Linked DNA regions of Homo sapiens. The protein of the gene in region 1 purifies or fractionates together with the protein of each later gene. This does not show direct contact. Each region holds a gene or a part of one and is shown in the gene's direction. Other genes may lie near its edges.

Evidence for each region. The genes of interacting proteins can lie anywhere in the genome.
Region 2: the proteins of LGI2 (region 1) and PARN purify together in Homo sapiens (affinity purification with mass spectrometry; one large-scale study listed by BioGRID and IntAct). This does not show direct contact.

Annotation. Positions count from the first base shown.
Region 1 is NC_000004.12:25,027,312-25,033,342, reverse strand, and holds the start of LGI2 (leucine-rich repeat LGI family member 2 precursor), read left to right. Parts: upstream 1-2,396; 5' UTR 2,397-2,649; coding exon 2,650-2,846; intron 2,847-3,109; exon of another isoform or gene 3,110-3,235; intron 3,236-4,764; coding exon 4,765-4,836; intron 4,837-6,031. UniProt on the Homo sapiens protein: Required for the development of soma-targeting inhibitory GABAergic synapses made by parvalbumin-positive basket cells.
Region 2 is NC_000016.10:14,577,580-14,581,828, reverse strand, and holds part of PARN (poly(A)-specific ribonuclease PARN), read left to right. Parts: intron 1-885; coding exon 886-955; intron 956-4,249. UniProt on the Homo sapiens protein: 3'-exoribonuclease that has a preference for poly(A) tails of mRNAs, thereby efficiently degrading poly(A) tails.

The DNA of each region.
Region 1 (6,031 bases):
CAGAACACTAAGCCAGGCTCTCTCAACCTTGGCTCTAGCAACATTTTGACCTGGATCATTCTTGCTGAGTACTGCAAGATGTTTAGTAGCGTCCCCAGCCTCTACACATTAGACGCCAGGGGCACCCACCCCAAATATCTCCACACATGGCCAAGTGTCCCCTGAATTACCCGCAATTGAGAACCACAACACAAGACAGTGACTCTGATTACAATGGAAGGACAGAAGTCAGGAAAACCCATCTCCCTCCATAGTCCTCTCTCCGTCACTTACCTACAATCTAGTCACATAGAACTCTGCTCAAACGCCCAGTGCCTCCTTTGTGGTATTAAATGCTTTACTTTCTTGATCTCATTTAACCCCCAAATGTGGTTACAACAACCTCTTGTTTACAGGTGAAGAAATGGAGGTTTAGAAAGATCACAGCTTGCACAGCAGTAAGTGGCAGGCTGGGATTACACAATTACACATCAGTAAGTGGTAGGCTGGGATGCAAACCCCAACCTGTCTAGTCCTGAGGCCAGCATTTAGCTATGCCACCCTGCCCCCAGGCTCTCACTCAGAGGTGAGAAATAGATTTTCTTTTCCTGGGTCAGCAGGGAGTGCTCTGTTTGAGAAGCCTCCGTTCCTCTGCTCTATAAAGCAGTAGCCCATCCCTCTTAAGGGAAACATCTTTCAGGTGCACAGCACACACATCCACGATTGTGGGTCTGCATGTCTGTCGCCCTCCCAGGCTGTGGTCTGTGTCCTCAGCCCCTAACACTGGGGCTTGCTGAGTAAAGTATTTGTAAATGCATGCCCACACAGCAGCGAGGGTTAGACACAGCAGCCAGTTGTGGAGTATGATCTCCCTGGCCATGTCCTGTGTGATCTTGGACAAGATAAAAACTTCTCTGAGCTCAATGTTCCCATCCATAAAATGGGAGGACCCATTTCTCAGGACAGATGCAAGAATTAAATGATGATAAATGCAGGCTGGTTTGTACTGATGCCAGGTGCTTTTTACATAGTCACCAGCAGGGAATGTCTAACTCCCTCCATGAAGTTGCCTACGCAAAGCTCTCTTTCAATTCCTGAACCTCTTTTGGTCAGTCTGTGACCCCCTTGTAGCCAGTGGAGTTGCTCTTTTAGGGTTGTCTGTCCAGCTAGACTTTTAGCTCCCTGAGGACAGGAGCTGTTCCTTTGTTCCCTCCCACAGCAGCCAGCCTGATACCGTCCTCATGGATCTTGTCAATGGATCACCAACAATAATTGCTGAAGAAGCAATAGTATGATTCCTACTTTTGCATTCGATACTGACTTTTCTGAGTAGGTTTTAGCATCTGGCATGCTTTTCCTTGGTTTGCAGCTCGACAGTCGTGCTGTGATTCCCTTCTCCCAGCAGTTCAGGTTATTAGCCATTACTTTGTTTCCGCTTTGGTCATTTTCTTTGATTTCCTCAGCCGCACATTACCTGTGTTAAGATTTCCGCTCATTGCTTCAAACTTAAGGAGTTGAAGAGGGGCTCAGGAGGGCCCAGTTAAGGTAGCCCTTCAAGGCTCCGAGCCCCATCCTGCCCAGCCAGGAGCTGCTGGACCATCAGCCAGTCAGGATGCTTTCTGGGCGTCAGCAGCCTCATCAATAAATTAAGGATATAAGTAGGACCTGCCTCAAAAGGTTAGAAGATTAAAAGTACAGTGGCTAGAATGTATCACACCCTCAATCTCTACAAACCCTCCTCTGACTGGGGCGGGTGGGGTGACCCGTGGGCAGCTGAGCGAGGGGAAACTTTCCCGGGCTTTCCAGCTCTTTAGCAGGCAGCAGGCAGGGCCCAGAGCGCCGGGCGTGCAGGCTGCAGCGGCTTTGCTTCCCCACGTTCCTCCCATGGGAGGACTGGCTGGCTTCAGTAACCCCTGGTGCTGTGGGAGCGAGAGCCAGACCTCACTGCCCCACCGCAGAAGACAAGCAAAGCCATCCTCGCTGACCCTACCGGCAGCATGCACTTCAAAATTAATAAAGGCTGCTCCAAAGTCTCTCCTCTTCAAAGCACCCAGGGCTGCCTCCCTCCCCAGTAATCAAGCCGGTTCTCCACACTCCCCGCTCCGACTTTATTGATTTGCCTGAAAGGAACCCAGTGCCCTCCCCAGATTATACCCCTGGAGGTATTGCAGGCATCGGATCCTCCACCGCTCAGTCAGGCCCCGACGGGGGTCTCCGCCAGGCTTGGCCCCTCCCCCAAGGTCACCCAACTTTTCCCTCTGTCCCCGCGCCCGGCCCGGGGCGAGAGGGGGTGGCGAGGTGGGGGCCGGGTGGGGCGCCACGGGGCCGGCGCTGGCCCCCTCCCCCGCGGGGCGGGCCCCGCCATGCATTATTCATTGGCCAGAGCCGGGCTGCGGGCGCGAGTGCTGATGTCAGGCAGGCGCGAGTGCGGCGGGCGCAGCGGCGGCGGCCGCCCAGCAGCCCGGGCTCGGGTGGGGGGGCGCCGAGTGGGGGTGGCGGCCAGCATGCTGCTCGGCTGCGGCTCGGCCTCCCACACCCGCGGCTCCCTAGTCCTCGCCAGCAGCGGCGGCGGCAGAGCAGCGAGCGGCGCCCGCGTCTGCAGCGGCGCCGGGTCCGAGCGCGCGGCGCGGCGGTGGGGGTCGGGGCCCGGGCGGGGAGCGGGGACCGGGCATGGCGCTGCGGAGAGGCGGCTGCGGAGCGCTCGGGCTGCTGCTGCTGCTGCTGGGCGCCGCGTGCCTGATACCGCGGAGCGCGCAGGTGAGGCGGCTGGCGCGCTGCCCCGCCACTTGCAGCTGTACCAAGGAGTCTATCATCTGCGTGGGCTCTTCCTGGGTGCCCAGGATCGTGCCGGGCGACATCAGCTCCCTGTGAGTGGGACCCCTCCAGCCCCCATCCCGTCCCGCCCCACCCTGCGTCCGCCGCCGCGAGGGAGTTGCCTCTGGCGCCGGGCCAGCGCGACCCTGACCCACTCCCCAGGCCCCTTCTTTGCCTTTGTGTGGGGGACGTGGGTGGAGTGTTGGCCCCCGGGGAGGACGGTGAGGACCTGAGCCCCAGAATCTGGGAACCCAGACAGGTTCCTGTGGCAGCGTTTCTCAGAGTGTGGCCCACGGGCCACCTGCATCAGACTCACCTGGGGAAGCTTGTGCCAATGCAGAATCCAGCTGCTCTGAAGCAGTCTTTGGAGTGGAGTCCTGGAGTGTGCGTTTGACGTCCCCGGGAGACTCAAGGGTGCATTAAAGTTTGAGAGGGCGTGTGCGTGTGTGTGTGTGTGTTTGCGGGTTGGAGTTGTGTGTGTAGGGGCGTGCATAGGAGCAGCTGAACACGACCTGACTGAGTGCAAACTGGGCAGGGTGAGGCCTCACTGCCCCACATCAGGTCTGGGGCGAATGTTCACCCCGTGGCCTCCTCCCGACTTCTCCACATTGCAGGTTGCAAAAAGTCGAGGTCAAGGCATGCAGGCTCTGGGAGGGGAGGGGCCGCCCCCCGTGGCCTAGAAGAGGGGTAACAGAAGGCTGGGCAGAGGTTTGGGGCATGTTGGGCGCCTAGCCCAGTGGCCAAGTGCTTTGAAGTCAGCCTTCTTGCCCTGAGGTCAGGAGGGCTTCTTGCCCCCTTTCTCCATCACACAGTTGTGTTGGCTGCTTTTTCAGCAGGAGGAACTGACAGGAAAGGGCTTCACATTAGGTATCCACCTGCCGAGAGGTGCTTTCATCCTGCCCTCACCTGGCCACTCAAGCCAAATGACCAGCTCTCACAAGGGCGGTGGAAGGGGCTGTTGGGCTGTATCTTTACTGCTAGGACATGTTTCCTGCTAAGACCACTCTCTTGTTCCAGGCCAAGATGCCTGGGTGCCCAGTCAGTGGTGGAGGCAGGGAATCCCCGGGGTGACGTTGCTTGTGCTCAAGATACTTTCTTGTGTCCAGTGCTTCCCAGCCTCCCACCCAAGGCAAATTGTAGGGGCCTGGACCCAGGAGTGAGGGGGTTCCCATTTGCATTTATAGAAAGTCAGAAGAGTTTGGCTGGTGGGAACAGAGGACCTTTTTGATTCTTAATATTGCTAAGTCGGGTGACATGGAGGATTCCAGAAATTAGAGTTCCCCTTATTAAATCCTTCAGACCAGCAGCTGCTTAAGTGATCTGCATGCCAACTGAAAGGAATTCTGAAATAATGTATTCAGATCCTGCTGTGGCCAGAAAGGATGGGGGCCTGGGGGCAGAAATAAAGCCAAGCATCTTGCCTCCTGGTTGACCGTTTTATCTGGCAGATGGTACTGCCTCTCCCCACACAGGGGAGTTCAGGTGTCTGTGAGTTTTTCCCCAGGGCTTTCATGTTGCATTTAATCAGGAGTGCTCTGTCTTTCAGAGATGGGGTCCCAAGAGGAATGCTTAATCCTACCCCAGCATTTCATAGGCCAACACAACGCTGTGTCTACACAAACAGAATCATGGGCAGAGGTGAAGCGATTATCCATTTTCAGGCAAGGACCTCCTGTAGTTAAGAAAAGGAAGTGAAGGGATTGATTTAAACTGACCGAGATAATGTCTGTGGAAGGAGCTGATGGTAAAGGTTTCTGTTATTCAGACTAGTCTTCATATTGATCTGATTCATTGGGAAGTGGCTTGTCTCTTCTTATTCCTACCCCGGGGAAGATCCTGGGCAACTGTGCTATGCCTCACTCCTGAGAGTCAGGGTTTGAAGTACAGGTGGAGGCAGAGTTTGATTACCCACCCTGCATGGCACTTCCTAAAAGAAACCTAGGCCTACTTTTGTTCATCTTTTGCCCGTAGGAGCCTGGTAAATGGGACGTTTTCAGAAATCAAGGACCGAATGTTTTCCCATCTGCCTTCTCTGCAGCTGCTGTGAGTATGGGAAGTTCCCTCTGCACAATGGGGGGCCCTGAGGTGCCATCCTTGGAGGGCCGTCTCTGCCTCTTTGGTATCAGCCCTTCCTAAAGTACCCCAGCTCCGTGAGGAGACCGTGGCTGCCTCTTGGTGTTAATTTACCCTGTGATGTCCCCAGCAAAGCACTGAGGCTCCCTGCTCAGCTCTTTCCTTAGTTCGATACCTGTTTTCTTCAGAGACTTTATTGTAGATCCCAACACCCAGATCTAGTAAATGGGGAGGTAATTGCATTGACTCATGACCTGAAAGTCACCTAAATGCACTGTTTCCCAAACACCTCAGTTTAAAAGAAAACTTCATTTTAAAATCTTAATGTTACTCTGGAAATAGGAGTGTTTCTAGTTTGCTGAGAACTTAAACCAGTCAGGCAGCATCCTATGAACTTACGTGCGTAATTTTATTTCATCATCACTTCATCGGTATGATGAAGGCATGCTTATGATCCCATTTGATAGATAAGGAAACTGAGGTTCAGGGAACTTAACTAACTTGTCCCAAATCAGAGCCAGATTCTAGTCCAGGGCCAAAAGCCCACACTCCTAACTATTCCTCATCCCATCTCCTCTCTGTGAGCAATGCTCAAGTCCCTGTGGTGATGCTCATGTTGTGCCCTGTAACCCAGGCTGGGTAATGTGTGCTGATGAAAACAAATGTCCAAAAAGTAGTTTTCAAAAGCAATCCAGTGACAGGCAAAGTAAGAGTACACACCTCATTCTCTTGATCTGTGTTGGTTTCTTAAATTTGAGATGAGACTGAAATTAAAACAAGCAATGTGCTATAGAAAAATTTGGATAAATGGAATATAGGAGAGCACTATTCATCCTCAATAAACATACTCTTGATACTTTTGTTCTTGAAATCTTATATGCCTACTTTTAACATTACACTTAACATTTTAAAATCTGAGGCCTCTTAGAAATTGCAGTGCTATTAAAATATACTTTTCATATAATAGAAATACAATTTTAGGTATTCTTTTGCCAGTAGACTTGGGTGATGACTCAAATAGAAAACTACGTAGTAACAGTCTCCTGAAAGTTTCTTAAACAAACTTTTTTTTTTTTTTTTTTAACTATTGTTATGGGTCCAGCTGCATGACTTTGGTCAAGTCACTTAGCTTCTCTGGGCTTTTATTTTCGTAAAAATAGATTTG
Region 2 (4,249 bases), on another chromosome or scaffold:
TGGGCTCAGCCTCCCAAGTAGCTGGGACTACTGGTGTGCATCACTGTGCCTGGCTAACTTTTTAATTTTTTTATAGAGACAGGGTCTTGCTGTGTTAACCAGGCTGATCTAGAATTTCTGGGCTCAAGTGATCCTCCTACCTCAGCCTCCCAAAGTGCTGGAATTACAGGCTTGAGCCACCGCACCCAGCCTCCTGACCCTTCTTATAAGGGCACTAATTCCCTCGTGACTTAATTACCTCCCAAAGGTCTCACTTCCAAATACCATCGTACTGGGGAGGCTTCAACATATGAATTTTAGGGGGACACAAACATTGAACCTATAGCACTACCATTTCCTTGGGATCCACTCACCCAATTAAAAGTGGGAGGGTTTTGAGGTAGGAGTGGGAGGAGATGAGGGGAGGAGGAAATCTGCAAGAAAAACCACTGACACTTGCTGTGGTATGGTACTTGGTGCGTAAGAATACCTTTCACAGGCCGGGCGCAGTGGCTTACTCCTGTAATCCCAGCACTTTAGGAGGCTGAGGTGGGTGGATCACCTGAGGTTAGGAGTTTGAGACCAGCCTGACCAACATGGAAAAACCCTGTCTCCACTAAAAATACAAAATTAGCTGGGCATGGTGGCACATGTCTGTAATCCCTGGTCCTCGGGAGGCTGAGGCAGGACAATCACTTGAATCTGGGAGGTGGAAGTTTCAGTGAACCGAGATTGCGCCATTGCACTCCAGCCTGGGCAACAAGAGTGAAACTCTGACTCAAAAAAAAAAGAATACCTTTCACACTTGTTGAACCATGCTGTTAATTTAAATCTGTTTTGGTCTGAACTTTCAGGCTTGGTCTATGTGACTATGAATAATAATACCTCTCTTCTTTTCTTCATTAGGTTCTTTTCTCAGCCCTCCAAAAATTCATGTGTCTGCCAGATCAAAACTCATTGAACCTTTTTTTAACAAGTAAGTAATCAGAGAGTTCCAGTTTCCAAGTTCTCTCACTGTGGAACAGCCTCATATCTTGGGATGTCAGTTTGGAGTTATTGGGAGCTATAACACATTTTTAGATAAGCTGTTTTTCATCTCGAGTGACTCACATGTTTTTTGAAAGTAGAAAGTGACCTTTTGGGGAACAAATGTATTAAAAATATAGGCTTAAAAAAAAAAAAGAAAACATTGCTAGACGTAGTATAGTAGATCTCTTCCAAGAAAAAGAACTGGTAGTTCTGGCATTTAAATTTCCTATGAGGGGCCGGGTGTGGTGGCTCACACCTGTAATCCCAGCACTTTGGGAGGCTGAGGTGGGCAGAGTGCTTGAGGTCAGGAGTTCGAGGCCAGCCTGGCCAACATGATGAAACTCGTCTCTATTAAAAATACAAAAATTAGCCAGGCGTGGTGGCATGTGCCTGTAATCCCAGCTACTCGGGAGGCTGTAGTGGGAGAATTGCTTCAACCCAGGTGGCAGAGGTTGCAGTGAGCTGAGATTGCACCACTGCACTGCAGCCTGGGCAACACAGCAAAACTCTGTCTGAAAAAAAAAAACAAAAAAAACAAAAGAAAATTTCCTGGCCAGGCGCGGTGGCTCACGCCTGTAATCCCCCAACTTTGGGAGACTGAGGCAGGCGGATCATGAAGTCAGGAGATTGAGACCATCCTGGCTAACACGGTGAAACCCCATCTCTACTAAAAATACAAAAAATTAGCCGGCACGGTGGCGGGCGCCTGTAGAAAACATGATTTTCTTAGCTCTTTTATTTTTTGGGGCAGTGTTTGTCTTTGGAAATGTAGCCTTTGCTGTAGACCATGGAACCCACAGGTGATTGATGTTAAATATAGTTCTTTTTTTTTTTTTTTGAGATGGTGTCTCACTCTGTCACCCAGGCTGCAATGTGGAGTGCAGTGGCACAATCTCAGCTCACGGCAATGTCTGCCTCCTGGGTTCAAGCAGTCCTCCTGCTGCAGCCTATGGAGTAGCTGGAACTACAGGCATGTACCACCACACCTGGCTAATCTTTATATTTTTAGTAGAGATGGTGTTTCACCATGCTGAATAGGCTTCTCTCGAACTCCCTGACCTCAGGTTATCTGCCCACCTCAGCCTCCCAAAGTGCTGGGATTACAGGTGTGAACCACCGTGGCCAGCTAAATATAGGTCCAATTATGATTGTTCCCTTACATTTTTATGTACTTGATGTTAAATTCATTGTTCTGCAGTATTTTTCAACTGAGAGATGTTGACTCATTTGTATTATTATTATTATTTTTTTGAGTCACGGTCTTGCTCTTTTTTCCATGCTGGAGTGCAGTGGCATGATCTTGGCTCACTGCAGCCTCCACCTCCTGAGCTCAAGTGACCCTTCCACCTCAGTCTCTTGAGTAGTCATTTGTAAATATTTACACGCTGTAAATATTAAAACAGTAATCCTGCTTCTCCACTAAAGTCAGCTCCTTATAAAATCAGATGTTGGATGCAAACTGGGTTAGATGTGGGCTGCATCTAGTTTATCAGTCATGTATGTGACCAACATGCAGAGCAATCAAAATAAACTTTGATTAAAAAGCTTAGCTGGGCTGGGTATAGTGGCTTACGCCTGTAATCCCAGCACTTTGGGAGAACAAGGCGGGCAGATCACTCGAGGTCAGGAGTTCGAGACCAGCCTGGCCAGCATGGTGAAAACCGGTCTGTACTAAAAGTACAAAAATTAGCCTGTATTCCCAGCTACTCGGGAGGCTAAGGCAGGAGAATCGCTTGAAACCAGGAGGCGGAAGCTGCAGTGAGCCAAGATCACACCACTGCACTCCAGCCTGGGCAACAGAGTGAGACTCCCTCTCAAAAAAAAAAAGAAAAAAAAGCTAGCTGAGACTTTCTGTATTTCTAGATCAATCTAATATTGCTAATACTGTGCAGGACTATTATTGAAAAGAACTAGACAGTAAATGTGTAGGCTTATTTTGAATTGGGACATCTGTCCATTCAGAATTTTTTTGTAAAACCTAGATGCATACCAAGAGTAGTTGAATAGGAGGTGGGATTTGGGAATCCTTCTGTGATTATTTTTTTGGTCTATTTTTTTCCAATCTGTAAAGGAAGAATATTTTCTTCATCATTAAAGGAAAAATATTCCTGCAAGATTTGAAATACAAAATAAGAACTGTGTTTTTTTTCTTTCTTTTTTTTTTGAGATGTTGTTTCACTCTTGTTGCCCAGGCTGGAGTGCAATGGCGTGATCTCGGCTCACCGCAACCTCTGCCTCTCGGGTTCAAGTGATTCTCCTGTCTCAGCCTCCCAAGTAGCTGGGATTACAGGCAAGTGCCACCATGCCCGGCCATTTTTTTGTATTTTTAGTAGAGATGGGGTTTCTCCATGTTGGTCAGGCTGGTCTCGAACTCCTGACCTCAGGTGATCCACCCGCCTCGGCCTCCCAGAGTGCTGGAGTTACAGACGTTAGTCACCGCGCCTAGCCAAGAACTGTTTTTATTCCTCTTTTTTTTTTTTTTTTTTTTTGGTGAGACAGAGTCTCACTCTGTCACTTAGGCTGGAGTGCAGTGGCGTGATCTCAGCTCACTGCAACCTCCACCTCCTAGGTTCAAGTGATTCTCCTGCCTCAGCCTCCTGAGTAGCTGGGACTACAGGCTCGTACCACCACGCCCTGCTAATTTTTGTATTTTTAGTAGAGACAGGGTTTCACCATGTTGGCCAGGCTGGTCTCAAACTCCTGACCTCAGGTGATCCACCTGCCTTGGCCTCCCAAAGTGTTGGGATTACAGGCGTGAGCCACCATGCATGGCCTGTTTTTATTATTATTTATTGGAATAACTTGGTTAAGTATAGGCATTCATTCTTAACCCCCTTAGAAAGTGGGTTTTATGGCCAGATGCGTTGGCCTATGTCTGTAATCCCAGCACTTTGGGAGGCTGAGGCGGGCGGATCACCTGAGGTCAGGAGTTCAAGACCAGCCTGGCCAACATGGCGAAACCCTGTCTCTACTACAAATACAAAAAGTAGCTGAGCGTGTTGATGGGTGCCTGTAATCCCAGCTACTGGGGGGGCTGAGGCAGGAGAATTGCTTGAACCCAGGAGGCAGAGGTTGCAGTGAGCCGAGATTGCGCCACTGCATTCCAGCCTGGGCAACAAGAGTGAGACTCTATCTCAAAAATAAATAAATAAATGTAAGTAAGTAAGTAAGTAAAGTGGGTTTTCTGGACCAGGTGCCGTGGCTCATGCCTGTAATCCCACCACTTTGTGAAGGTGAGGAA